2 separate regions of the Homo sapiens genome follow, and region 1 is linked to region 2. Evidence: fine-mapped expression QTL. A gene starts in region 2. The other region holds a variant in brackets. All regions are shown on one strand. Distances are between the middles of the regions.

The links.
Region 1: its variant is fine-mapped to the expression of ZNF358 in whole blood (TOPMed, PIP above 0.99). The same link has a PIP of 0.9 or more in CD4 T cells and T cells.

What each region holds. Positions count from the first base shown.
Region 1 is chr19:7,340,442-7,357,656 of GRCh38, reverse strand. ARHGEF18 (Rho/Rac guanine nucleotide exchange factor 18) reads right to left here and starts at 8,720. Exons shown (of 29, transcript NM_001367823.1): 1 at 8,416-8,720. RefSeq lists a silencer at 3,075-3,194 and enhancers at 12,704-12,773, 16,246-16,315, 16,376-16,485. The variant C/T (reference allele first, on the strand shown) is at 7,498.
Region 2 is chr19:7,508,721-7,521,343 of GRCh38, reverse strand. It overlaps ZNF358 (zinc finger protein 358), which reads right to left and starts at 5,241. Exons shown (of 2, transcript NM_018083.5): 1 at 5,095-5,241; 2 at 319-2,139. The coding sequence starts at 2,101. The coding sequence ends at 395. It overlaps LOC105372261 (a long non-coding RNA gene), which reads left to right. Exons shown (of 3, transcript XR_936294.3): 3 at 6,869-6,991. RefSeq lists a silencer at 5,160-5,409.

The DNA of each region.
Region 1 (17,215 bases), 170 kb after region 2:
AGGCTGATGACAGGAGACACGCTGTAAGGGAGTCACTCTCCCAGGGGAGCTAAGCCAGAGGAGAAATGAGGCCTCAGGGAAAGGGGCTCTGTTGGGGATGCACCCTGCTCCCCACCCCCATGCTTCTCTCCAAGGAGCTGTCCATCAGCCTGGATTCAGTCCCAGGCAGCCTCCTCCACTATCAGCCCCCACAGCATCAGCCATAAAAGGGTTTAAGAGTCACTGTCAGTTCCCACAGCTCACTCCCCCACCTGCTAGCATATAAATCCCAGCCTCAACTGCCTGGGCAGGGAGACAGGGTGAGCTGAGCAGCCACAAGAGGGACAGAACTTCTTAGGGACCTGGGTCACAGGCAGACACTTTGGTAATCCATGGCAGATACACTGATTCTTCAGGATCGCCATCCACCGTTGGATCTAAAAACCCTCCCCAGGCACTCCAGCTGCCCACACTGGCAGCTTTGTTCATCAGTCAGAACACATCAAAGTGGCCTCACACAGAATCGGCTTCAAATCCCGGTTCCTCCAGCATATACTTGCTGTGTGACCTCGAGCAAGTCGCTCAACCTCTCTGAGCCCAACTTCATGAGAGCTCAACAGCCACCAACAACTTTTATCCTGATGATTACTCTTCTATTGCATCCCAGTTCCCAGGCCATCCTCTCTCCCCCTAACCCCAGCCCTTGGGTCCCCTGGCACTCCCATCTGCTCCCTGACCCCGGCACAGTGCCTGGTACACAATGAGCCTTCAAGGAGGGTCAGTGGAATGAATGAGCTAACGAATCTTCACATTGGCCCCCTCTTTCATGAAAACTCACTGCTACCTTGAACAAGTACGTGGCTCATGCAGGTGATGGTGGCTGTGACTAACAAGTCATGCAGGCTAAGCGATGCGGCTGGCCTGACCAGGAGGCGCTCATATGGGCAGTGGGGAGCCGGAGACAAGAAAACCCATGAGGCAATGAGTGCATGACCAGCTTTTATGATATTGTCCAGCACTGTCCTCTCATGCCCTACGTACCAGGACATCATCTGGTTATCTTCAAGGGCTAAACTCTTGAGCATTAAGAAGTGTCTCTTTGATGGCTGGGCGCGCTGGCTCACACCTATAATCCCAGCACTTTGGGAGGCCGAGGCAGGTGGATCACCTGCGGTCAGGAGTTCGAGACCAGCCTGATCAACATGGTGAAACCCCGTCTCTACGAAAAATATATAAATTAGCCAGGTGTGGTGGGGGGCACCTGTAATTCCAGCTACCCGAAAGGCTGAGGCAGGAGAATGAATTGAACCCTGGAGGCAGAGTTTGCAGTAATGAGCTGAGATCGCGCCACTGCACTCCAGCCTCGGCGACCGAATGAGACTCGGTCTCAGAAAAAAAAAAAAAAAGAAAAAGTGTCTCTCTTTGCAACAACAGTTCACTCAGGCCTTTGATGACATAATAAAGGCTGTTATCAGTCCCCAGAGAGGTCACCTGAGGCCTGGGGACCCTGGGGGTTGAGAGAGAGAGCACCAGCCGATGTGTGTGTGTATGTGTGTTGGAGGGAGGTGTGTGCCCCAGAGCCTCTAATCCCCCCGTTTTTGTTTCTGCCCTGAGCCTCCTGTCCTGCAGCTGGGCCAGAAACCAACAGCATCTGGGACCCCCAGGAGATCGCTGGGCTGCCCCTGAGGAGTTCAGCGGCTGAGTTAAGAGGGCGGACTTTCTTTCTGCAAATTTACCGCCCGAGACAAATTCCTGGCCAAGTCTTGGGAGACATTTCCTCTGAAACAAGAGGGACCCCACAAGTCTGTGATAATTCCAGGGGGCCCTGGAGAATCAGGGGTCATGGAATCCAGGGCCGATGCCAGCAGAGTCTGTACTGCAGCCAAGAAAAAGCTCGAAGGGGGATGGCGGGCAGGCTGTCCTGGGATCCCCACCTGGGTGGATGGCTCCCGCTGGTCACTGCCAGCTGCTTACCTCTCTTGAAGGCCCACCGCTTCAGCCACAGCTTGGAGAAGGCCGGCCAGGAGTGGTTGAGCACCGAGTCAGCCATGGGGGCCATGCGTGCGTGTGAGAGCTTGAGTGTGAGCTGGCCTGGGAATCCCTGCCAGGATGGGGCTGCCAGTAAGAGGGGCGGAGACTGCCTCCAAGGTCTGCCAGATACATCAGCTGATAGAAGCCTGGGGCTTCAGCAGGGGGGCTGGGGTTTCCAGCTCAGGGGCCCAGGGACCCCTGGTTTGAGGAGAAGCCAAGCCCTTTAGCACCCTCTGTCCCTTAAACCCAGTCTTACAGGCCTCTTACCCTGGCTGGACAAGACAATCTTAGGGAAATACAAGTACAAACTGGGTCCCTCGGGGAGCCTGGGTGTGCATGGATGTCTGAGTGTTTGTGTGTGTGTGCGTGCCATCGTCTTGGTGGGTTTGATGATGCATTTCCATGTTGTGTAGAGAGCACGTGCTTTTGGGTTTGTGATTCTGTGTTTCAGGGTGAGTTCTGAATATCAGCTTGTCAATGTGGGGGTGTATTTGATTATCTAGATAGTTTTAAAAGTGTCTCTGTGATTGTCTGTGTGTGTGTGTGTGTGTGTGTGTGTGTGTGTGTGTGTGTGTGTGAAGCCCATTGGTATCCGTGAGGTCAGATTTAACTACATGACTCATCTGTGTCTTGGGGAGATCTGTTTCTAGTATCTATGAGGTGGTTTTGGTGTCCGCCTGGGTTTCTGTGTTTCTACATATTTGTGTCTTCATCTGTTTCTGTTTTTTGTTTGTTGTTTGTTAGTTTTGAGATGGGTCTTGCTCTGTCACCCAGGCTGGAGTGCAATGGCGTGACCACAGCTCACTGCAGCCTCCAACTCCCGGTCTCAAGGGATCCTCCGGCCTCAGCCTCCTGAGTAGCTAGGACTACAGGTGTGTGCCACCACACTGGCTAAGTTTTGTATTTTTTGTAGAGCTGGGGTCTCACTATGTTGCCCAGGCTGGTCTCAAAACTCCCAGGCACAAGCGATCCTCCTGCCGCGGCCTCGCAAAGTGCTGGGATTGCAGGCATTGAGCCACATCACCTTTCTCTCTGTACCCAAGTGTGGGGTATGGTGTGTGTGTGTCAACGAGTGCTCATCCGTGCAGGTGCTGCCCCCTCGTGGTGGAAGCTCCTTTATCAGCGTCTTCACTCCTTGTGTCTGAAAAATCCCTGCTTCAAATCCTGGCTTCAAATCCCAGCTCCTCCAGCACGTACTTGCTGTGTGACTCCCTCCTTCAGTCTCCCAATTGTTTACATTACTTCCCAGCCCCAAATCACCCCCAGCCCCAAATCAGCCTCCCAAAGTGCTGGGATAACAGGCATGAGCCTGTTATTTTTTAACTTTTATTTTTGAGACAGGATCTCACTCTGTTACCCAGGCTGGAGTAGTATGATCTATAGCTCACTGCAGCCTCGAACCCGTTGGCTCAAGCAATCCTCTTGCCTCAGACTCCTGAGTAGCTGGGAATGTACATGCATGCTATCACACTTGGCTATTTTTTTTACTTTTTTCTTTTTTGTAGGGATGGGGTCTTCTATGTTGCCCAGGCTGGTCTCAAACTCCGAGCTTCAAGTGACCCTCCTGGCTCAGCCTCCAAAGTTTTGGGATTACAGGCGTGAGCCATGGCACCCAGCCAAATCTCACTTTAAAAATACAACAGGGATATCTATTTCTTTTCTTTTTCTTTCTTTCTTTTTTTTTTTTTTAGACAGAGTCTTGCTCTGTCACCCAGACTGGAGTGCAGTGGCTGATCTCAGCTCACTGCAACCTCCAACCTCCACCTCCTAGATTCAAGCGATTCTCCTGCCTCAGCCTCCCTAGTAGCTGGGATCACAGGCGTGCACCACCATGCCCAGCTAATTTTTGTATTTGTAGTAGAGGCAGGGTTTTGCCATGTTGGCCAGACTGGTCTTGAACTCCTAACCTCAGGTGATCCTCCCACCTCGGCCTCCGAAAGTACTGGGATTACAGGTGTGAGCCACCACACCTGGCTAAATCTCACTTTAAAAAAATACAACAGGGATATCTATTTCTTTTTCTTTTTCTTTTCTTTTCTTTTTCTTTTTTTTTTTTGAGATGGAGTTTCACTTTTGTTGCTGAGGCTGGAATGCAATGGCGCAATCTCGGCTCACTGCAACCTCTGCCTCCCGGGTTCAAGTGATTCTCCTGCCTCAGCCTCTCAAGTAGCTGGGATTACAGGCGCCCGCTACCATGCCTGGCTAATTTTTTGTATTCTTAGTAGAGATAGGGCTTTGCCATATTGGCCAGGCTGGTCTCGAACTCCTGACCTCAGGTGATCCAACCACCTCAGCCTCCCAAAGTGCTGAGATTACAGGCGTGAGCCACTGCACCCAGCTGGAATATGTATTTCTAATGATGGCAGGCTAGCTTATTGCAGATTTATTCTCCCACCAAGAACAAATAGAAAAGCTGGACAAAATTGGAAGAGTGAAAAACCACCCTTGCTTGGAAGGCATTGGCAGTCAGAGTTGGAAGAATCACGGCCCTGGAAAGAAAGGAAACCTAGGGGCCAGGCGCGGTGGCTCACACCTGTAATCCCAGCACTTTGGGAAGCCGAGGTGGGCAACTCACTGGAGGTCAGGAGTTCGAGACCAGCCTGGCCAACATGGTGAAACCCCGTCTGTACTAAAAATACAAAATTAGCCAGGCATGGTGGTGGATGCCTGTAATCCCAGCTATTCAGGAGGCTGAGGCAGGAGAATCGCTTGAACCTGGGAGGCAGAGGTTGTGATGAGCCAAGATCATGCCACTGCACTCCAGCTTGGATGACAGAGCAAGAGTCTATGTCAAAAAAAAAAAAAAAAAAAAAAGGCCAGGCACGGCGACTCACACCTGTAATTCCAGCACTTTGGGAGGCCGAGGTGGGCGGATCATGAGGTCAGGAGATCGAGACCATCCTGGCTAACACTGTGAAACCCCGTCTCTACTGAAAATACAAAAAAATAGCCGGGCGTGGTGGCAGGCACCTGTATTCCCAGCTACTCGGGAGGCTGAGGCAGGAGAATGGCGTGAACCTGGGAGGTGGAGCTTGCAGTGAGCCCAGATCATGCCACTGCACGACAGCCTGGGTGACAGAGTGAGATTCCATCTCAAAAAAAAAAAAAAAAAAAAGGAAACCTAGGAAAGTGAGAAGGACATAATGTAATGCTTTTCCCTCACAAACAAGTTGTTGATTTGAACACAGTTCTTGAGTGAGTGGGAGGCAGACCAGAAAAAGCCTGAGAACCTGAATGTAGCTCTTAGCAATCTTATGTTGGGGAAATAAACATTGGAATTCAGGGCCCAAAAAGAGGAGGTGATTGCCACCCCTAAAAGACTACACCCTAGGAGCAAGGAGGGACCAGACATAGACTAGCCCTCACCGAGAGCAAAATCCATCTTCAAGTCAGCATAGGTCACAATCAGATTAAAGTGATCTTTCCTTTCTCTAACTGCCTGCCCAAAGCAAAAATAAACGCTCTATGGAGGAAAATGACACCATAAAGAGACACAAATTATCCCTATAGTTTTTCACAAACAAGGCCTGGCATTTAATCAGACTACCAGGCATACTAGAAGACAGAACCTCATGACCAAAAAACAAGAAGAAACACAGACAATAGCAACAGCCCTACAGGAGATAAAGATGCTAGAATTAAAAATACAACAGGCCAGGTGCAGTGGCTTACATCTGTAATCCCAGCACTTTGGGAGGCCAAGGCAGGTGGATCACCTGAGGTCAGGAATTCAAGACCAGCCTGGGTAACATGGTGAAACCCTGTCTCTACTAAAACTACTAAAATTAGCCAGGTGTGGTGGTATGCATTTATAATCCCAGCTACTCAGGAGGCTGAGGCAGGAGAACTGCTTGAACCCAGGAGGTGGAGGTTGCAGTGAGCTGAGACTGTGCCACTGCACTCCAGCCTGGGCAACTCTGTCTCAGAAAAAAAAAAAAAAAAGAGAGAGAGAGAGAGGCAGAGAGAAAATACAGTAGCATATGATACAGGGATGGCTGGATGGGATCCTTAAGAAGTCCACTCTAGCTGGGCACAGTGGGTCATGCCTGTAATCCCAGCACTTTGGGAGGCTGAGGTGGGGGGATCACAAGGTCAGGAGATCAAGACCATCCTGGCTAACACGGTGAAACCCCGTCTCTATTAAAAATACATAAAATTAGCCGGGCATGGTGGCGGGCGCCTGTAGTCCCAGCTACTTGGGAGGCTGAGGCAGGAGAATGGCGTGAACCCGGGAGGTGGAGCTTGCAGTGAGCCGAGATCGTGCCACTGCACTCCAGCCTGGGCAATAGAACAAGACTCCATCTCAAAACAAACAAACAAACAAACAAACAAACAAACAAAAGAAGTCCACTCTAGCAGACTTGCTTACAGATTGAGATCCACCATGGGTATGACCCAGAACATTTCAGAAGATGGTGGGACTGCTCAGGAAGGAAGGCCTGGGGACAAGGTCAGTATGAAGGCATAGGTGAGGCTGACAATGTTTTCTGATCTATTACGTGCCAGACACTGCACTAAGATCTCACAGACCAAACTTCATAAAGGCTGAGCGAGGTGGTTCATGCCTGTAATCCCAGCACTTTGGGAGGCCAAGGCAGGCAGATCACCTGAGGTCAGGAGTTCAAGACCAGCCTAACCAATATGGTGAAACCCTGTCTCTACTAAAAATACAAAAATTAGCTGGGCATGGAGGCGTGTGCCTGTAATCCCAGCTACTTGGGAGGCTGAGGCAGGAGAATTGCTTAAACCCGAGAGGCGGAGGTTGCAGTGAGCTGAGATTGCACCAATGTACTCCAGCCTGGGCGATAGAGCAAGATTCTATCTCCAACACACACACACACACACACACACACACACACACACACACACACACACACACCCACCCCAAAAAACTCAACAGCCTTTTAACAGATGAGCAAACGAAAGCTCAGAGCAGTTAAGTCATTTGCCCAAGGCCACATAGAGGCCAGGGAACTGGGATTTGAACGCCCAGCTGTCCAACACAGTCACCATGTCATCTACAACAGTATCGAGCATCAACATATGCCCATCCCTTTGTCATGGGCTAGGGGATGCCCAGGGAGGCATGGGAGACAGCCCAGACCAGAAGCACCGACGTGTTTGCAGTTGCCATCTACTGGTTCTTCAAGGCATAATGAAAAGGCTGCCTCTACCAAGCAGCCCTCCCAGAGTGACTCCCAGTCACAGCAAGGGAGTTGAAATGTGGCTGATTATGAGGGCAACCCTTTCCTGACCTCCTTTGGTTGTCATGTTCTTTTCTCAGAACTGCAGGTGACCTGGCCTTGGAGCATCAGCCCCCAGCGTCACTTCCTAGCTCCATCCTCTCTGGCCCCAGCTGTCCACTCTAGCTCAATTCACTCCCTCCTGGTTCTGGGGCCACCTTCCTAGACCTCAGGGTGCCTGAAGCCTGCCCTGCAGCATTGGGGGCTGGCAGGAAACAACAGACTGGGTGTGCCCAGCAGAAAC[C/T]GCAGCCTTCCTCCCCCACCCCTCCCAGTCCCAGGCAGGCGGTGGTGCAGGAGGTCCCCCTAAGAAGGGGCCACGAGAGGAGACAGGGGATGTCTCCCAAGGGGGAGAACCCTCACCTGGAGGAAGGCTGCCTGGGTGGAGGGATGTGCTCTCTGGATGATTTCAGATCAGGACAAGACCCTTCTCAGGGCTGGTTGTCAGCCATCAGCCTTAAGTGTGAGTTTGTTTTGACAGTGGATTCAGAATCTGCAACAGGGAGGTTCTTGGGGGGCCCGGAATCTGCAGTTTAAGATGCAAAGGGCACCTGAGCCTTTGCCCCAGCTCCCCCATTCATTCTCTGTCTCCTGTCTCCACGCAGGAGGGCCTTGGCTACAAGGAGCTCTATCGTCCTTTCTTTGCTTTTCTTTTTCTTTTCTTTGTTTTGAGACTGAGAGGCTCACTTCAACCTCTACCTCCCGGGTTCAAGCCATTCTCCTGCCTCAGCCTCCCGAGTAGCTGAGATTACAGCTGCCCGCCACCACGCCTGGCTAATTTTTGTATTTTTAGTAGAGACGGGGTTTCACCATGTTGGCCGGGCTGGTCTCCAACTCTTGACCTCAAGTGATCCGCCCTCCTCAGCCTCCCAAAGTGCTAGGATTACAGGTGTGAGCCACCGCGCCCGGCCTCCACCCTCCTTTCTTACCTAGCAGCCCCTCAAGGATCCCCGTCCCCTGGGGTGACCTCTTATGACCACAGATCTCTGCACAATGAACGCAAGGGTCAAACAGCTTCCCCCACCCACTCAGGAAGCAAGTTGACTGCAAGGGGGAGAGAAACAGTGATGTATGTCTGCTCGCTGTCCCCCTAGACTTCCCAGACCCCACTGCCACTCTGTCCCGATGGGTCCATCTCTCTCCACTTCCCAGGATAAGTACTTACCAGATAGAGCTCAGTTCTTCAACCTGCAGGCACCTAGCCTGGCTAACAGCTCCTGCAGCTCCCATGACCTACGGCCAGCGTTTCGAGCTGGCCCAAGGGAACCGCTGGCTGGGTAGAGCCTGGGATAACCACAGAATGACCCAATAGCACCTCGACTTCCTCTTTCTCAACTGCCTGCCTGCATGCTTGCCACTCTGCTCCCAGCTGCAGGCCAATCTAGGGGCCTAAAAAGAGCCCAGAGGATGGGGGTTCTGGAGGCAGAGAGCCCTGCTCCCACCCCTCAGCCCTGCGCATGCAGGTGTCTTGAGGAGGAGGGGTGGGGAGCTGGAGGGAGGCCCAGCGTCCTCAACCCCCACCCCAGCAGCTTCCTGTGGAACCAACTGCTGAAGAGGAACAGGGTGTGGGGGCCTCACCCAGGCACATGGGTGTATAGACAGCAACATATAGGGACGTGCAGGTCATGTGTATCCGTAGAGACTCAGGCACCCAGACACACACCAGCATGGTGGGTACACACAGAGAGACAGAAACACACGTGGCTACATTGTTACATGGGTACCTGGAAGCTGGCGGAACAACATGGTGTGCTGGTAACGTTTAACAACCACCTCTCCGATTTGTAGCCATTGCCAATTCTCCTGGTGTAAATACCCCCAGCATGGCCGATTTCACCTACCAGTGTGATGTCACCGAGTGTGGAGTTGATAGGAAATGCTCAGATTTGGCTTTTTTTAGAAAACAACAACAACAACAACAAAAAACTGTTTATTTTATTTTTAGAGATAGGGTCTCATTCTGTCATCCAGTCTGGAGTGCAGTGGAAAAATCATAGCTCACTGCAGCCTCAATCTCTTGGGCTCAAGTGATCCTTCTGCTTCAGCCTCCTGAGTAGTTGGGATTACAGGCACATGCCACCATGCCTGGCTAAGTTTTTTGTTTACAGATAATTTATGTATAATTTATATATACTTTATATATAATTATATATGGATTATATATAGACTTATATATAATTTATATATAATTTTTTATATATAATTTTTCTTTTGAGACAGGCTCTCACTCTGTCATCCAGGCTGGAGTGCAGTGGGGGTGATTTTGGTTCATTGCAACCTCCATCCCCTGGGCTCAAGTGATCCTCCCACCTCCGCCTCCTGAGTAGCTGGGACCACAGGCACACATCACCACGCCTGGCTATTTTTTTTTGGTTTGTATTTTTAGTACAGACAGGGTCTCACCATATTGCCCAGGCTGGTCTCGAACTCCTGGGCTCAAGCAATCCTCCCACCTTGGCCTCCCAAAGTGCTGGGATTAGAGGCACGAGACATGGCGCCCAGCCTAAGTTAATTTTTTTTTTTTGTAGAGACAGGGATTTTATTATGTTTCCCAGGCTGGTCTCAAACTCCTGGGCTCAAGCAGTCCACCCGCCTTGGCCTCCCAAAGTGCTGGGATTACAGGCATGAGCCATGATGCTCCACTAAACTTGGCTCTTGGGCTGGCTTCAGCCTGTCACTGGAGTGAGTACTCTACAAAAAATTTAAAACTTCGCCACATTTGGTGGTGCCTGCCTGCAGTCCCAGCCGCTCCGGAGGCTGAGGCGGGGAGGCTCACTTGAGCCCAGGTGTTCAAAGCTGCAGTGACCTATAATTGTGCCACCGTACTCCAGCCTGGGTGACAGAGTGAAATCCCATTTTTTTTAAAGAAAGTTAAAATGGTAAATTTTACGTTATGCCTATTTTACCACATTTAAATTAATCACTTTAACATTATTTTTGCTGCATTTTCCATAATCTATGCTTTTTTTCCTTTTCCTTTTTTTTTTTTTTTTTTTTTTTTTTTTTTTTTTGAGATGGAGTCTTGCTCTGTTGCCCGGGCTGGAGTGCAGTGGTGCAATCTCAGCTCACTGCAACCTCTGCCTCCTGGGTTCAAGTGATTCTCCTGCCTCAGCCTCCCAGGTAGCTGGGATTATAGGTGACCCCCACCACACCAGGCTAATTTTTGTATTTTTAGTAGAGACGGGATTTCACTATGTTGGCCAGGCTGGTCTCGAACTCCGGACCTCAGAGGATTCGCCCACCTCAGCCTCCGGAAGTGCTGGGGTTACAGGTGTGAGCCACCACACCTGGCCTCATAATCTATGCTTTTGATGTTGCTTTTGTGTATGGAACCTGTTTGGTAGAAATACTGTATAATGGTTTGCTGCTGTCCATATCTTTCTGACTCACTGTTCGGTGGCATCACTTGAAATTGGCTGTGGCGAGAGTATTTACACCATGAGGACTGGCAATGCTATAAATCAGTGCTCTCCACTGGAGAGGTTCAACATTTACCAGCACACTACTGCACAGCGGTGCACACAGATGGTTTTGGGATACTGCACAATCACACTTCACACATGGTCACACATAGGCACAGGGACTCACAGAGGCAGATACAAGTGTGCACAACTACATGTAGGAGCCACCCCACACACAGAGGACACGAGACACATGCACGTGCACAACAGAGCACAACAGCGCTGCACAACAGGGCTGCAGGCTCCTGGAACACAAAGCTCAAGGACACACCCAGAGGACACACAAGGATACGCAAACACAGACACGTGTGCTCATGGGCACAACTTCACACAGGAGCATGCAGTGTCATGTGGACATGCAGAATGGGCATGCAGACACACATACACAACAAACACCCCGACACACATGTGGACTCACAGCCACAGTCACACAGAACACTCACACACACACACACACACACACACACACACGAGCAGATGCTGCTGGCCAGGCGCGGTGGCTCATGCCTATAATCTCAGCACTTTGGGAGGCCGAGGCAGGTGGATCACCTGAGGTCGGGAGTTTGAGTCCAGCCTGGCCAACGTGGTGAAAACCCATTTCTACTAAAAATATAAACATTAGCCGGGTGTGGTGGCATGTGCCTGTAATCCCAGCTACTCGGGAGGCTGAGGCAGGAGAATGGCTTGAACCCGGGAGGCGGAGGTTGCCGTGAGCCAAGATCATGCCACTGCACTCCAGCCTGGGCAACAGAGTGAGATTCCATCTTAAACAACAAACAAAAACAAAACAACAACAACAAAAAAGAGCAGATGCTGGCCACCTCTGAGAACACCTCTGGAGACACTGACTTGCACACCGGTTGCCACGGGACCACTCAAAATCACTAACACACAGACCCGGAAAGCCCTCACCACAAACACTCACTGGCCCATAGCGCCGCGCTTGTCCCTGGGGACACAGGTGGGGCCATCCCCAGAATCACACCAACGAGACACACACAGAACACAAGGAGACACAGATATACACAGATTTGCACACACCCATTCTGTAACCAGTTGATTATTTCTTTCAGGCAACATGCATTTATCGAGCACCTACTGTATGCCAGGCACTGTGGCAGGTGTGGGATCACGGTGAACAAGACAGACACAAACCCCCGCCCTGCAGGAGCTCCAGCTGGGGGAGGCAAACAGTGAATCAGGAAACACACCTAGGAGATAAATTCAGGTGCTGTGAATTGCCGCAACAGGAAGTAAACAGAGTGATGCGATAGAGTGGGTGGGGGAGGTTGATGCTTTAGCTGGGAAGGTCAGGGAAGGCCATTTGAGCTGAGATCTGTAAGCTCAGAAGAAGTCAGGCATATAAATCAATGTCTAGCTGGGCGTGGGGGCTCACGCCTGTAATCCCAGCACTTTGGGAGGCCGAGGCGGGTGGATCACGTGAGGTCAGTAGTTCAAGACCAGCCTGGCCAACATGGGGAAACCCCATCTCTTCTAAAAATACAAAAATTAGCCGGGTGTGGTGGCGTCTGTCTGTAATCCCAGCTACTCGGGACACAGAGGCAGGAGAATTACTTGAATCTGGGAGGCAGAGGCTGCAGTGAGCCGAGATTGTGCCACCCTACTCCCACCTGGGTGATAGAGTGAGAAAAAAAAAATCTAGGGGAAAGTTATTCTGGGTGGTAAAAACTGCCAGGGCAAAGGCTTGGAGGCAAGACTGAGCTTGGGGTGTTTGAGGAACAGAAGGAAGCAGGTGTGGCTGGAGCCAGGCGGAGGAGGACTGTCACAGGACCCAAAGTGCTGGGATTACAAATACGACACACCGCACCTGCCCTTTTCTCCCACTTTTGATAGAGACATAGCAGAGTGAAATATTTCTGTGCTGTAGAAATACTCTGTGCTGTTTGGGAGTACCGTCCACACTTCCTGTCCACGCTTCCCCACTCTCTGAACCCTGGCCTCTGTCCCCACTGCGCCCCGGACACCTGATATTGGCCTTAAGGCCGAATGCAGAGGCCACCCCTCGGCTGTGCACACCTGGCTCCCTTCCTTCCCCTCCACCACCCCGTCCAGCCCGCAGGGAGGGCCACCACCTGCTCTACCCTTTACTGCTTGCGTTGGTGGGAAAAGACACATAACATAACATTTACCCTTTTACCTTTTTTGTTTGTTTGTTTTTGAGACGGAGTCTCGCTCTGCTGCCCAGGCTGGAGTGCAGTGGCACGATCTCGGCTCACCGCAACCCCCGCCTCCCAGGTTCAAGCAATTCTCCTGCCTCAGCCTCCTGAGTAGCTGGGATTACAGGCACCTGCCACGACACCTGGCTAATGTTTTGTAGTTTTAGTAGAGATGGGGTTTCATCCTGTTGGCCAGGCTGGTCTCGAACTCCTGACCTCAAGAGATCTGCCCACCTCGGCCTCTCAAAGTACTGGGATTACAGGCGTGAGCCACCGTGCCTGGCCTTAACCATTTTTTTAAATTTAAAAAATGATTTTTAAAATGTGTATACATTTAAGGAGTATAAAGGCAACTTTGTTACATGGATAGATTGCGCAGCAGGAAGCCTGGGCTTTAGTGTAACCATCGCCCAAGTAATGTACATTGTAGCCATTAAGTCATTTCTCATCCCTTACCCCTCCCGCCCTTCCTCCTTTACCCCTTCCGGGTCTCCACTGTCTAAAATTCCGCACTATGACCACGTATACACATGATTTAATTCCCGCTTATAAGTGAGAACATGCGGTATTTGACTTTCTATTTCTGAACTGTTTTACTTAAGATGATAACAGCCTACAGTTCCATTCATATTGCTGCAAAAGACATGATTAATTCTATATTTTAACCCTTTGTTTTTGTTTGTTTGTTTGTTTGTTTTTGAGACAGGGTCTTTGTCACCTGGACTGGAGTGCAGTGGTGGGATCACAACTCACTGCAGCCTCAATGTCCCAGGCTCAAACAATCCTCCTGCCTCAGCCTCCCGAGTAGCTGGGACTACAGGTGCGTGCCACCATGAGCGGGTAATTTTTAATTATTTTTTGTACAGAAGGGGTCTCATTATGTTGCCCAGGCTGGTCTTAAACTCCTAGACTCAAGCAATCCTCCCATCTCAGCCTCCCAAAGTGTTGGGATTACAGGCATTAGCCACTGCCCCCAGCCCATTTTAACCTTTTTTTTTTTTTTTTTTTTTTTTTTGAGACAGAGTTTCTCTCTTGTTGCTCAGGCTGGGATGCAATGGCGCAATCTCTGCTCACTGCAACCTCCACCTCCTGGGTTCACGCGATTCCCCTGCCTCAGCCTCCCAAGTAGCTAGGATTACAGGCACCTGCCACCATGCCCAGCTAATTTTGTATTTTCAGTAGAGACAGGGTTTCACCATGTTGGCCAGGCTGGTCTCAAACTTCTGATGTCAGGTGATCCACCCACCTCGGCCTCCCAAAGTGCTGGGATTACGGGCGTGAGCCACCGCCCCTGGCCCTTGTTAACCATTTCTAAGTGCACAGTTCAGTGGCATTAAATGCATTCGCATTGTTGTGCAATCATCTCCAGCACTTTCTCATCTCCAAACTGAAACTCTGTCCCCATGAAACCCTCGCTCCCCATCTCCCTCCCCAGCCCCTGGCACCCACCATTCTGCTTTCTGTCTCTGTCAATCTAGTGACGGTAGGGACCTCCTATAAGTGGAATCACACAGGATTTGTCCTACTGTGCCTGGTTTCTTTCACCCAGCGTAATGTCTTTAAGGTCCATCCATGTCAGCAGGTGTCAGAATTTCCTTCTTTTTGCATCTGAATCATATTCCATTGGTGGATAATTGGGTTATTTCTATCTTTTGGTAATTGTGAATCATGCTGCTAAGAACATGGGTGTATAGGCTGGGCGTGGTGGCTCACGCCTGTAATCCCAGCACTTTGGGAGGCCAAGGCGGGTGGATCACGAGGTCAAGAGATCGAGACCATTCTGGCCAACATGGTGAAACCCCGTCTCTACTAAAAGTACAAAAATTAGCTGGGCGTGGTGGCGCTCGCCTGTAGTCCCAGCTACTTGGGAGGCTAAGGCAGGAGAATTGCTTGAACCCGGGAGGCGGAGGTTGCAGTGAGCCGAGATCGCGCCACTGCACTCCAGCCTGGGCGACAGAGCGAGACTCCATCTCAAAAAAAAAAAAAAAAGAACATGGGTGTATAAACATTTGTTTTGAGTCCCTGCTTTCAACATTTGGGTATGTACCGCTGGAGAGATTTTTTTTCCTTCCTTCCTTCCTTCCTTCCTTCCTTCCTTCTTCTTTTGTGGTGTTGTTTGTTTGTTTCTGAGACAGAGTCTCACTGTGTTTCCCAGGCTGGAGTGCAGTGGCGTGATCTCGGCTCACTGCACTGCAACCTCCGCATCCCGGGTTCAAGCGATTCTCCTGCCTCAGCCGCCCGAATAGCTGGGGATTATAGGCATGTGCCACCACACCTGGATAATTTTTGTATATTTAGTAGAAACAGAGTTTCACCATGTTGGCCAGACTGACCTCAAACTCCTGGCCTCAAGTGATCCACCTGCCTCGGCCTCCCAAAGTGCTGAGATTGCAGATGTGAGCCATCACGTCCAGCAGAATATATGCAATAGAACACAGGTCAGCAAAGTATAACCTTTAGGCCAAGTTTAACCCAATGCTTACTTTTGTAAATAAAGTTTTTATTCTTGTTTTCTGAGAGACAGGGTCTCATTCTGTCACCCAGGCTGGAGTACAGTGGTGTGATCATAGCTCACTGCAGCCTCGACTTCCCAAGCTCAAGCCAGCCTCCCTCCTCATCCTCTGGAGTAGCTGCGACCACAGGCATACAACACCGCGCCTTGCTATTTTATTTTATTTTTGTCCTTTTGAGACAGAGTCTTACCCTATTGCCCAGTCTGGAGTGCAATGGCGCAGTCTTGGCTCATTGCAACCTCCGGCTCCTGGGTTCAAGAGATTCTCCTGCCTCAGCCTCCCAAGTAGCTGGGATTACAGGCATGTACCACAATACGTGGCTAATTTTTTTTTTTTTTTGTATTTTTAGTGGAGATGGGGTTTCACCATGTTGGTCAGGCTGGTTTTGAACTCTTGACCTCAGGTGATCCACCCACCTCGGCTTCCCAAAGTGCTGGGATTACAGGCATGAGTCACCCTGCCCGGCCTTATTTTATTTTTTGTAGAGACAGGGTCTCGCTATATTGCTCAGGCTGATCTCAAACTCCTGGGCTCAAGTGATCCTCCCACCTCGGCCTCCCAAAATGCTGGAATTACAGGCATCAGCCGCCCCTGGAGGGTTTTAAGCAGGGGCCTGTGAACCTATTTTGCTTTCAGCTTTAAAAGATGCCTTGGCCAGGTGCGGTGGCTCATGCCTGTAATCCTAGCACTCTGGGAGGCCGAGGCAGGCGGATCGTGAGGTCAGGAGTTCAAGGCCAGCCTGGCCAATATGGTGAAACCCCGTCTCTATTAAAAATCCAAAAATTAGCCGGGCATGGTAGCACACGCCTGTAGTCTCAGCTACTCGGGAGACTGAGGCAGGAGAATCGCTTGAACCTGGGAGCCAGAGATAGCAGTGAGCCAAGATCGTACCACTGCAATCCAGCCTAGTGACTCCATCTCAAACAACAACAACAAAAAGCCTTTTTCTTCCAGCCTTAGCTGCTATCATGGAGATGGCCACGTGGGGGCAGCACTTCCCCATGGCTTCTCCTCTGGCCAGAAAGACCACAGAAAGCAAAACAGGAAAAAAAACCGACCCTTGTGGAAAGCCGGAAGGCTTACAGGGGCCAGGCAGCAGCCTGAGTTAGTGAGGGCCATGGGGTGTGAGACACGGGTTTGCCCTTCCTTCTACCACGCTTATTTTTTTCTTGGAGTAGTCTCACTGTGTTGGCCAGGCTGGTCTCAAACTCCTGGCCTCAAGTGATCCTTCCTCCTCGGCCTCCCAAAGTGCCGGGATTACAAATGTGAGTCACCACACCTGGCCTTTTCTCCCACTTTTGACAGAGACGTGGCAGAGTGAAATATTCCTGTGCTGCAGAAAACAACATAATTTCAGTTGGGTTAAAGATGAAATGTGAACAATAAACCAATACAGATCATAGAAGGAATTTACAAGGCTATTTTTACAATTGAGGGTTGAAAACATGCTTTTTTTGAAATTGTTGTGTGTGTGTTTTAACTAAGACAGAAAACCCAGAAGCTATGAATGAAACCACAGAAATACTTAATACATAAAAATCTATATAAACGTGGCCGGGTGCAGTGGCTGATGCCTGTAATCCCAGCACTTGGGGAGGCTGAGGCAGGTGGATCACTTGAGGCCAGGAGTTAGAGACCAGCCTGGCCAACATGCAGAAACCTTGTCTCTACTAAAAATACAAAAATTAACTGGGTGTGGTGGTGGGCACCTATAATTGCAGCTACTCGGAAGGCTGAGGCAGGAGAATCACTTGAACCCTGGTGGCAGAGGTTTCAGTGAGCTGAGATCTCACCACCACACTCCAGCCTGGGTG
Region 2 (12,623 bases):
TGTTCCCTGCTGAGACCCCAGCAATCCAGAGATGTTTGTTGATTGCATAAATGAGCAACTTTTTTTGTCCACTTGTATACCTACTGTATGGGCTTTGAAGAGCAAGGGGTAAGTGAGAGGAACAGAGAGTGGTGACTAGTGGGATGGACCAGGATGAGACACTGTGGGTTAAGCTGGAAAGTCTAGCTGGTGGGCCCAAGAAGGAAGCCAGGACACTGGAGCTCCAGATTGTGGCTGGCCCTGGCCACAATGTCCCATCTCCGGAGCAAGGGGCTGTGCTCAGAAAGAAAGCACAAAAGGCAAGCCACGACACAGAGCCCGGAGGCAGTGGGAGGATTTTACTGACTGCACAACACACAACTTCCCCAGGCCCCCGAGGATGCCGGCGTCTCCTTCAGCCATCAGGCCCCAGCAGTGCCCCTTGCTCCTGTACCCACTCTGGACTCTCGCCGGTAGGGAGGGCTGGGCTGACAGTGCCACGAGTGGGAGAACAGGGGTCAGGGCAGGACACAGGGTTGGGATCAGGGCTGGGCACAGGATCAGGGTCTGGGCTGGGCACAGGATCAAGGTCTGGGCTGGGCACAAGGTCGGGACCAGCGTCGTGCCCAGCCTTTGGGTCAGAAGATTCCACAGGAGTAGGGCTGGGGGTGGATCTGGAGCCGGGGAGGGGTTTGGAGCTGGGATCCGGCAGAGTGCCCGGCCCAGAGCCAGGGTCAGGGTTGCGGCCAGAGCTGGTGCCAGGGCTGAGGCCCAAGCCAGAGCCGAGCACAGAAACAGCATCAGGACCCAGGAGGGAGACCTGCCCCGGCCTCATCATGGATGCAGGGCTTAGGCCAGGCCCGAGGCCCAGGCCGGCGGCCGCTGCTGCAGCTGCAGCGGCCGCGGCAGCTGCAGCAGCGGCTGCACCCTCATGCACCCGTTTGTGCTTGGTGAGGCTGGAGGCCTGGCCGAAGGCCTTCCCGCAGAGCTGACAGCGATAGGGACGCTCGCCCGAATGCACGTGCAGGTGCTGGAGCAGCGCTGAGCTCTGGCCGAAGGCCTTGGAGCAGTGCGGGCAGGCGTAGGGCCGCTCGCCCGTGTGGATGCGCAGGTGGTGTTGCAAGTTGGAGCTCTGCCCGAAGGCTTTGCCGCAGTGGGGGCAGCGGTAGGGGCGCTCGGCCGTGTGTGTGCGCTGGTGCTGCAGCAGCGCCGAGCTCTGCCCGAAGGCCTTGCCGCACTGCGGACACGGGTAGGGCCGCTCGCCCGTGTGCGTGCGCAGGTGTTTGAGCAGCGCAGAGCCCTGGCCGAAGCCCTTGGCGCACACCGGGCACTTGTGGGGCCGCGGGCCGCCGTGCGTGCGCAGGTGCTGTGCCAGGAGCGAGCCGTGCCCGAAGGCCTTGCCACACACCGGGCAGTGGTGCGGCTTCTCCCCGCTGTGGCTGCTGCGATGTTTCAGCAGCGTGGAGCGCCAGCCGAAGGCCTTGCCGCAGGCCGCGCACTGGTACGGCCGCGCCCCAGTGTGGATGCCACGGTGCTGAGCCAGGGTGGCACCGTGGCTGAAGGACTTCCCGCAGTCGGGGCAGCGGTACGGCTTCTCGCCGCTGTGCGTGCGGCGATGCTGGCTCAGCCCGGAGCTGCGGCGGAAGGCTCGCCCGCAATCCGGGCAGGAGAAGGGCCGGGGCGGGCTGGCGGGGGCGGGGAGCACCGCGGGGCTGGTGGCCAAGACCTGGGGGGTGGCAGTGAGGCCAGAGGAGATGGGGTCCACTTTTGGATCGCCGGGGCTGAGGGTGTCGCTGTTAGGATCGAGAATCAGGGGTACGGGGCCAATCACATCTGGATCGAGGTCGAAACTCGAAGACATGGGGTCGGGATCTTGGGGTTCCGAGCCCGGAGCTTCGGCGTCGGGGTCCAGATCCTCCGAGACGGGCTCCAGATCTTCATAGCTGGGGTCCACGTCTTCCGGGACAGTGTTGAGGTCTTCAGGATCAGGCTCTGGGTCTTCAGAAACCGGGTCCAGATCTTCAGGATTGGGGTCTAGGTCCTCGGAGTCAGAGTCGAGCTCTTCATAAACGGGTCTCAGGCCTTTGTGGCCTGGGTTCCTGACCAGGACTGAGCGCCGCATTTCAGGCGTGGATGTGCCCGCAGCTTCTGGGGCAAGACCTGCAAGGGCAAGGATAGAGGGTAGAGGGTAGGTGGGTTCTGTGGGAGCGGGGGTGTCTTTTGGAGTCTGGTTAGGGATGAGAGACGGGACCCGATTGTGCCCCCAGAACCCACTTCTTTTTTTTTTTTTTTTTTTTTTTGAGATGGGGTCTCGTTCTGTTGCCAAGGCTGGAGTGCAAAGGTACCATCTCGGCTCACTGCAACCTCCGCCTCCCAGGTTCAAACAACTCTCCTGCCTCAGCCTCCTGAGTAGCTGGGATTACAGGTGTCCACCACCATGCCTGGCTAATTTTTGTATTTTTAGTAGAGATGGGATTTCAGCATGTTAGACAGGCTGGTCTCAAACTCCTGACCTCAGGTGATCTGCATGCCTCAGCCTCCCAAAGTGCTGGGATTACAGGCGTGAGCCACCGCGCCCAGCCCCACTTCTTTATTTTTATTTTTTTGAGATGGGGTCTCACTCTGTCACCCAGGCTAGAGTGCAGTGATGTGATCATACATAGCTCACTGCAGACTGGAACTCCCGGGCTCAAGCGATCCTCCCACCTCGGCCTCTCAAGTAGCTGGAATTACAGATGCACCACCACACTCAGCTAACTTCAATTCTTTCTTTCTTTCTTTCTTTCTTTCTTTCTTTCTTTCTTTCTCTCTCTCTCTCTTTCTTTCTTTCTTTCCTTCCTTCCTTCTTTTCCTTCCTTCTCTCTCTTCTTCCTTCTTTCCTTCCTTCTTTCCTTTCTCTCTCCCTCTGTCTCTCTTTTTTGAGATGGGGTGTCGCTATGTTGCCCAGGCTGGTATCAAACTCCTGGACTCAAGCAAACCTCTGGCCTTGGCCTCAGAAAGTGCTGGGATTACAGGCATGAGCCACTGTGCCTGGCCAAACCCCACTCACTTCTGAGCATACACGTGGATCCTTCCCTTGTCTCTGACTGCAAGGAGATTTCTGACTTACCCCAGCCAGGGCAGGGAGTTGAGGGAACCAGGTGGGACATGGTAGGACCCTCCCCTCTCAGCCCCAAACCTGGACGGAGGTCATGAGACCCAGCACTAGAGGTTTCTAGTCCCCAACTCCATGGCTCTGCACCTCTCTCCAACCTGGGCTCCTCTTGTGGGAAGCTGGGGTCCTGTGGAGGAGACAGTCCTAGCTTCCTACCCCCTTGCTGGGCGTCCCCACATGGGGAACAGTGTGGGTGTCAGCGTTTCTGTGCTCCTGAGCACATGGCCTGAATTCTTGTCCCATACTTGGAGGCGGCAGATTAATTTAGGGGGCGAGTTCTGGTAGGGAGGCCCCCCTCCAGCAGCAGCATTCTGAGCTCTAGAACCCATGTCTGGGGGATAAGAATATGGAACAAATAACATCAGGTATCCCTCCCAAGTCACTGGGGAAAGACAAGAAGACTCTGGCTTGCCCTCTGGGGAAAAGAAAACCTGAATTCCAGAGCTCACAGCTCCAGGTGGGAGTCAGTGTCAAATCCTCTCTCTTAGACAGATCGGAAATGCCCTTTCCTACAGCCAGATAGTGAGCATGGTAGAGTGATATTTGGGACCCCTCCTGGTGAGGAGGGATGGGTAGGGAGACTCATGAACCCCATAGGCAGGATGGTGGGGACAGTTGTTAGTATACCTGTTTTATTTATTTATTTATGTTTGAGATGGGGTCTTGGTATGTTGCCCAGGCTGGACTCAAACTCCTGGGCTCAAATGATCCTCCCACCTCAGCCTCCCAAAGTATGGTGATTACAGGCATGAGCCACCATGCCCGGCCAGTATACCTGTTTTCCCTATTGGCTAGAAGGTCCTGCATTTTAACTTCTAGCTGGAGGATAGGCAAAAATAATACCTGGGGACCCTCTGAAGTTAATGGGGGAACGCCTGAGTCATCTCCTCCCATGGCTGGGACATGGCGGGTAGTGTCAGCACACTTGTAGCCCTTCCTGCAGGAAGGATCCTGAACTGAATTGCCAGCTTGTGGCTAGGGGCAGACTGGGAGGTAGAGGGACAAAAGCTGGAACCACTTCTGGGGAGCAATGGGAGCCCAGGATGACCTGCCGGGAGGATGCCTTGAGCTCCCCACCCCATGGCTGGGTGTTGAGGTGTCAACAATGAATGATCTGCTCCTGGGAGAAGCTGTGGGGGGACCTGTGGCTCCCCTTCTGGGGAAAGGAATACACTGAGCCACAACCCCATAGCTGGGAGTGTGCAGGCAAACAGAGCCGAGTTCCTGGACGGCGGTCCTCAACCCAGACCCCATAGTTGGAGAGTGGGGGAAACAAGACCTGGGACCCCTCCTGCATCAGGGGCAGAGGAACCCTTAGATTGCCTCCAGGGGAAGGAGCCCCCTGAATTCCCATCTCTTAACTGGAAGGTGGGAGGAGAAATCACTTAAGTCTTTCCTGAGTTCCCAGGGGTGAGGGCAGGTGGACCCCTGGATCACCTCCAGGGAAAGGAGCTTCCAGAACTGCAGACCCCAAGACTGGAGGGGCAAGGGAACAATCGCTGGGACCCTTCCTAGGGTCCTGGGGGAAGAGGGAACCCCTAGGTCCCCCTTTTGAGGACAGGGCCTCCTGAACTCCAGACCCCAGGCGGGAGGTGGGAACAATACCTCGAATCAGGAGGGGAGGGGGTCCTGGATCGCCTCCTAGGGAGGGGGCGTCCTGAGCTCCAGACCCCAGAGCTGGCGGGCGCCCCCCACCCCGCCCGATTGAAGGCTCCCAACCTCCTGGCCCTTTCCCCCCGGGCCCCAGCGGCGGGATGGGTGCGCTAGGCCGGAGCTGGCCGCAGAGTCCCCTCCCCATCGCTCCCGCGACCCCCGCTCGCCTGGGCCAGGGCCGGCGGCGCGCAGGGCGGGGGACGATTAGAGGTCGCCCCGGGCTGCGCCCCGCGCCTGGAGCTCCCCCGCCCGCCCGCCCCCCACCCAGCCCCCCGCCCCGGCCCCAGCCCGCTCGCAGGGACACTCACCCGGCGCCCCTCGCCCCTGCCCGGCCCGCCGCGCCCGCGCCGGCCGCCGGCTCCCCCCGGGCCCGCAGGAAGCCCCCCGCCCGCCAGCCCCGCCGGCGGCCCCCTCGGCCCAGCGGCCCCGCCAGGCGCTCCCGGGGAGCGAGAGGGGCCGGCCGAGGGCCGCAGCGGGAGCTGCTGGGACTTGTAGTTCGCCCGCGCCCGCCGCGGCCGTCGCCATCGCTGCCCCCGCCCCCCGGGCAGGCCTTTGTCCCCGGCCAGGCCACCCCGACCGCGCGGCCGCGCCTTTGTCTGCACCGTGCCCCGCCCGCACGCAGCCCTGGCCCCATCCCTAGTCTCCTCCTGGGCCTGTCTCAGTCCCTCTGTGGCCCTGGCCCTATCTCTTTCTCTCCATCCCTGTCCCTCTCTCTGTCTCTCTCCGTCCCTATCTCTCTATCTCTGTTCATTCTCTGTCTCTGTCCCTGTCTTCCCATCTCTGTTCCTTTCTCTGTGTCTCTGTCCCCATCTCTTTCTCTGTGTTCCAATCTCTTTGCCTCTGTTGCTTTCTCTGCCTCTATCTCTCTCTGTGTCTGTCTGTCTCTCTCTCTCTGTCTCTGCCTCCTGCCCATGTCTCTGACTCTATCTTTGTTCGTAAAACTCTACACATGTTGTTCTTGGAGACTTGCAGCGCACATAGGCACAGCCAAGCCTCTCAGCTCTGCAATCTAAAAACATGTCTATTTTTGCTTAACCTGGCCTTCCTCCAATTTTTCCTTTTTGCATGGTGAAACCCGTCACCCTTTCTGGGTAACACCCGCCAAGGCACAGATTTGGGATATTCCTCCTCTAGTGTTTTCAGCCTCCTACCCAGATGGTGGGTCACCGCTGTCCCTGGAGGCCTCCAAGTGCTAGATGTGAGTGATGGTTTCCGGAGAACCCTACGCCGGGCCGGGAAGGGCTCGGGGCAAACTTTCCTTGGAGACACAGATCCCCGCTGCCAGCCAGGAGAGAGAGTGGAAATCAGCTCCTGATGGCTGGGCCGCGATGTTCTCCACTAAATATAAACAATGGTCACAGAATATAAACAATGATGAGGCAAGGCCACTCTGTGACCATGTCTGAACCAAGATAGAGACATGGGCCCTGTGCAACCACAAAAATGAGTTCTCATCCCCCTCTCCAAGTGAACACAAATGACTGCCACTTCTTACCGACGACAATTCCAACCCAACTGCCATCCTCCCACCTCTGAGACAAAAATCACTGAAATACCTAGTCAGCAAAGCGCTCCCAGGTTCCCGACAATACCACCCTAGTAATTCTCTGTAAAACCACCCAGTATAGGCTGGGTGCGGTAGCTCATGCCTGTAATCCCAGCACTTTGGGAGGCCAAGGCGGGTGGATCTTGAGGTCAGGAGTTTGAGACCAGCCTGGCCAGCATGGTGAAATCCTGTCTCTACTAAAAATACAAAGATTAGCCAGGCGTGGTGGCAGGCACCTGTAATCCCAGCTACTCGGGAGGCTGAGGCAGGAGAATTGCTTGAACCCAGGAGGTGGAGGTTGCAGTGAGCCGAGATTGCACCACTGCACTCCAGCCTGGGCAACAGAGCGAGACTCCGTCTCAAAAACAAAAACAAAACAAAAAATGCAAACCACCAAGTACAAGCCCAAATTCTATAAGATACTCCTCTGTCCCCATGTCCTCCTTATAGAGACACCCTATGGTTCCTTCTTCCTTCCTGAACCTTCTAGATGTGTGTTAGACTCAGCCTGAGACCTGCTTTCCATCTTTCCGCAGAGCCCACAGCAGATCTGAGAGATTGGAGATAACTTCAATTGGATTATGCCCCTGGTTCCTTATCCTGACACTTCCTGGATGATCCCATTACAAATACATGTGATGACATCTGTTGTTTCTTTGGCTCAGAATCTAACAGTACTTTCTTTTCCTTTGTGGGGTCCCCTCCACTACTCCAGATGCACATGTGTCTAACACCCCTTCCCAGTCCCACGTGAGCTGGACTCTAATCAAAGGGCCCCTATCCCCTGGCCACAATAATTAGGTATGGGTTGAGAAGGTGACATTGGAGGTTCTCACTCTACTTCTGGGGTTATGAGCCACAGGGGGCTCATTCTGCCTGCAGCCACTTTCCCCAGTTGTTCAAAAGAACGGTCTGCAGACTGAGGACAATATGCACCAAGATGTACAAGTAAGAGTCAGAGAGATAGCTCTGGCTATATTTGTTGAGCTCCTGGATATAGCCGTACCTGAAGCCACAGAACTCATTCTTTCCTGTACCACAAACCAACAAATGTTCTGGGTGTTTGAGCTGGTTTTAGTGGATGTCTGTTCTTTGCATCCGTGACAGTCTTGACTAATTTAGGAATTATTACCTGGAAAGGAAAGAGTAATAAAAAAAATCTTTTAAAAAAAACCCTAAAATGTGGAACAAACTAAAGAAAGATGGGATAGAGAGCCAGGGTTGCCACATACATGGACTATAAAGTGAATAGGGCACCTTAAGTTATGCAATGCACGACCTGTCTAGATGTATACGGGGCTTTGTAAAAGAGCTTTCCCCCAGAAAACTAGAGTTATGTGGAAGAAAACCAGCGGATTAAATTGTTGCCTGGCCAGGCGCGGTGGCTGACACTTGTAATCCCAGCACTTTGGGAGGCTGAGATGGGCGGCTCACTGAGGTCAGGAGTTTGAGACCATCCTGGCCAACATGGTGAAACCCCATTTCTACTAAAAATACAAAAAGTAGCCGGGCATGGTGGAGGGCACCTGTAATCCTAGCCACTTGGGAGGCTGAGGCAGGAGAATCACTTGAACCCGGGAGGTGGAGATTGCAGTGAGCCGAGATCGTGCCACACTATACTCCAGCCTGGGCAACAGAGCGAGACTCCATCTCAAAAATAAATGAATAATAAATAAATAAATAAATAAATAGTTACTGATTTTTTCATGGAACTCTAACCATGTGTCTCCTAAGGACCAGAATATTGGAATATGGGGAAGCTTTCTTTCTCTTTTAGAGACAGGGTCTCATTGTGTCACCCAGGCTGGAGTGCAGTGGCACAATCATAGCTCACTGCAGCCTTGAACTCCTGGGTTCAAGCCAACCTCCCACCTCAACCTCTTGAGTAGCTGGGACTACAGATGAGTACCTGGGGACTCAGCCTCCTGAGTAGGTGGGACTACAGCCACCATGCCTGGCTATTATTACTATTTTATTTGTAGAGATGGAACCTCACTATGTTGCCCTGGCTGGTCTCAAACTCCTGACTTCAGCGATCCTCCCAACTTGCTGGGACTACAGGTGTGAGCTACCATGCCTGGCCTGGGGCAGCTTTCATGCAATCTTCAGCAAAGTCTTGCAAGAAAGACACAAGTTTCTGGAATGTGTTTCTTCTCAAAGCAGAGAATCATCTGCTTCATCTTGTGAGAACCTCAGAGCTGAATTTTCCGCCCCAGGCTAAAAGACGAGGCAGATGATGAGGTAGAAGATAAGACTGGGATTATGGGAGGACATCTGACACCCTAAACTACTCCCAAACGCTGAACATTCCTTGTCTGCAAAGCTGACAATCACTCTCACTGGGAAGAGCCTATTAGCTGAGCTAATCCACCCTCCAGATTGCAACCTGGGGCAGGACACAGATTTGTCCTTAGGAGACACAGTCAATTAAGGTTGGGCTCCAGCGCCGTGATCCTGGCTGGGTTTGGGGAGTTAAATAACCTAGGGGTGGGTTCCTGAGCTGGGCAAACCAATCACCATATTGTTTTCCTCTGGGCACAGTGATTGGTCCACAACTCGGTGAGTGATTCAAATGGGCCAATCAGCCTGTTCCTTAAATCCCAATATGGGGCCCGGTGTGGTGGCTCATGCTTGTAATCCCGGCACTTTGGGAGGCTGAGGCGGGCGGATCACTTGAGGTCAGGAGTTCAAGACCAGCCTGGCCAACATGGTGAAATCCCGTCTGTAATAAAAAATACAAAAATTAGCCGGGCATGGTGGTGCATGCCTGTAGTCCCAGCTACTTGGGAGGCTGATGCAGGAGAATTGCTTGAACCCAGGAGACGGAGGTTGCAGTGAGCCGAGATTGCATCACTGCACTCCAGCTTGGGTGACAGATGTCTCAAAACAAAAACCAAAATTCGATAGAGGGAGCGTGGTGGAAAGACCCCGCCCTTCTCTGGGGGATCTAATCATAATGATTGGAAAATACTACCAGCATCTTCCTTTGCTGTTGCTTGGAGGGACACAGGACTGAGAGATGGCCAGGGGGACAGAGTCCTGATGCAAAATGCCTGATATTAGACCCAATTCCAGACTCAGACCTTCTTGTTTCTGTGTGTGTGTGTGTGTCTGTGTGTGTGTGTGTGTGTGTGTGTGTGTTATTGTTGAGACAGAAACTTGCTTAGTTGCCAAGGCTGGAGTGGAATGATAATAGCTCACTGCAGACTCAATCTTCTTGGCTCAAACAATCCTCCCACCTCAGCCTCCCAAGTAGCTGAGACTACAGGTGCACACCACCATGCCCAGCTAATTTTCTAAATTATTTTTAGTGGAGATGAGATCTCACTATGTTGCCCAGGCTGGTCTTGAACTTCTGAGTTCAAGTGATCTTCCCGCCCCAGCCTCCCAAAGTGTTGGGATTGCAGGCATGAGCCACCACGTCTGGCCTGTCTTTTTCTAAATCAATAAAATTCCTTTTTTTCCTTGAGCCAGATGGAGCTTGGTTTCTGTCATTTGCAACAAAATGACGTAAGACATTAACACATTTAGTCACCATTCACTGAGCTGCAGCCAAGTGCCAGGCCCTCTTCTGAGCATGGTACATGCACCTCTTATTTAATTCCTGTAACCACTCTATGAAACGGGAACTATTGGCATTCCCATTTTACAGATAAGGAAAGTGAGGGTCAGGGTGTATTTTTGCCTAAGGACAGAAAGGCAGGTCTGAATTCTGCTGCTGGGTGACGCTTACCACTGAGAAAGTTGTTTTCCTTTAAAAATTAATCTTGGTGGGCTGGGCACGGTGGCTCATGCCTGTAATCCCAGCACTTTGGGAGGCCAAGGCGGGCAGATCACGAGGTCAGGAGTTCAAGACCAGCCGAGCAACATGGTGAAACTCCGTCTCTACTAAAAATACAAAGATTAGCCAGGCGCGGTGGTGGGCACCTGTAATCCCAGTTATTTGGGAGGCTGAGGCAGGAGAATTGCTTGAACCCAGGAGGCGGAGGTTGCAGTGAGCTGAGATTGCACCATTGCTTTCCAGGCTGGGTGACAAGAGCAAGACTCTGTTTCGAAAAAAAAAAAAATCTTGGTTTCTCACATTCAATTCTATATTTTTTTGTCTTAATCCCTAGGCTTTTGGGGGAAGGAAGGGAGTGAGTGGAATATAGGAGGGTTAGTCATAAATCCATAAAATACATCCAGAATAATCCTGATGTAGTGTCTTTCCCCAAGGATTAAACATTTCCAGTACAGTTTCTGTTCTTCCCTGGCAAGCCATCCTAGGGCTGGTCATTTTCATTGTCAGAAAGTGCTCCAAGTTGTGCTGAAATCCAGCTCTTTTTTAATTGCTATGGACTGTTTTCATCTAATGCCTAAGGCTGTTTTAAACCATTCCTGGGATGAGGCAGGAAGATAATCCTGCAACTACAGCTACATGGAACTTAAGACCAAATAAACATTCTGAGCTTCCCAGAAGGCAAGGCAAAAAGGGAAAGCCTTTCTGTTCTAGTAGTCTGGTCACTAGGCAGACCAGCTTCATCAGAAGAGGATGAGCTTATCGAAGTGGTTTCCAACCAGGGCAGTTCTCTCCCATCTGGAAGATATATGGCAATATTTGGGACATTTTGTTACAAGTGGGAGGGAGAGGTTCTACTGGCATTTAGTGGGTAGAGGACAAGGATGGCACTAAATATCCTACAATGCACAGGAGAGCCTCCAATAAAGAATGATCTGATCTAAGACACCGATAAATGATAAGCCCTGGTTTATCCTGAAGTAACTCAGAAGAGCATGATGCCAAATATCTTTAGAGGACATATTCACAGCTGGCAGATTCTTGCATGGTCGAGGTGGATACCATGTGTGGCCAAAAGGGTCATCTTGTCCCTACAGGATGCAAAGCTGGATTCCCTCCTGCCTTTCCTGCAGAAATGACAACCTGGCCTAGAAGAACTGATGCCAACCAGGAAAGGGCTCCTGGGCAGGGTCGAGATTGGCTCAACCTTATGGTTCATTGGATTGGGGTCCTTGGTCTTTGGAGGTTTGATTCTTGGTTCAGGAAAGCCATGTTCACTCCTTGAGACTGGATGTTCAACAGCCCACAGAGGCAGGCCCCGGCATGGTCACTAAAGCCTACCTTACCCGAGACAGACCTTACCCCAGACAGACCTTTCTCCTCACCATGCCCTGGACCTTAAAGGTCAGGCGCTGTCCAAGGTACTGGTCCTTGCTAAGCCCTGTCACTCACTTGCTGCAGAGCCCCATCACATCCTCCTCCTTTTGACCCTTTACATTTTGTCCCTGGCTGAACACTTACCCCCCTGGACCTCATAATATCTTGATGGCTTTTGTCAATTTGCCCCTGGACTCTGCTCTGACCTGGGGACCAGTTGCCCAGACAACCAGTGCCCCATTCGGTCTCTAGTCTCTGTCCATGATGGAAAAAACTGCTGGGTTATTCTCAGCTGTGTCCACTCTTCCATGTCCTCTATGGGCCACATCCAGTGTCCCCACCATTGAAAGCTTTTTCCCCACACCCTGGCCTTCCCCATTCTCATCCTCAGAAGGGAAGCTTCCCCTCCACGACCCCAGCCCCATGCACTGAAAAGTGTGTACATTTCTCATGTATAACAGTCTCATGGGAGAATTGCTACTTATCCCCATTTCATAGATGAGCAAATTGAGGCTCATAGGGGTTAAGTGACTTGCCCAAACTACCACCCAGGACGTGGAGGAGTCCGAGTTTGGATTATGCCCATCCAGCACCCCCACCCTTCCCCGGCCCCAGGGATCTGTGTTCTGAAGTACGCACGCCAGTATCTCTGTTCAGCACTATAACTTTATTCTTTTTTTGAGACAGAGTTTTTGCTCTGTTGCCCAGATTGGAGTGCAGTGGTGCAATCATATAGCTCACTGCAGCATTAAATTTCTGGGCTTAAGTGATCCTCCCACCTCAGCCTCCTGAATAACTTGGACTACAAGCACGTACCACCATGCCTGGCTTTCTAAAATTTTTATTTATTTATTTATTTATTTTTTAAGACTTAGTCTCACTCTGCTGCCCAGGCTGGAGCTCAGTGGTGTGATCTCAGCTCACTGCAACCTCCGCCTCCCAGGTTCAAGTGATTCCCGTGCTTCAGCCTCCCGAGTAGCTAGGATTACAGACATGTGCCACCACATCTGGCTAATTTTTGTATTTTAGTAGAGATAGGGTTTCACCATGTTGGCCAGGTTGGTCTCGAACTCCTGATCTCAGGTGATCCGCTCGCCTCGGCCTCCCAAAGTGCTGGGATTACAGGTGTGAGCCAC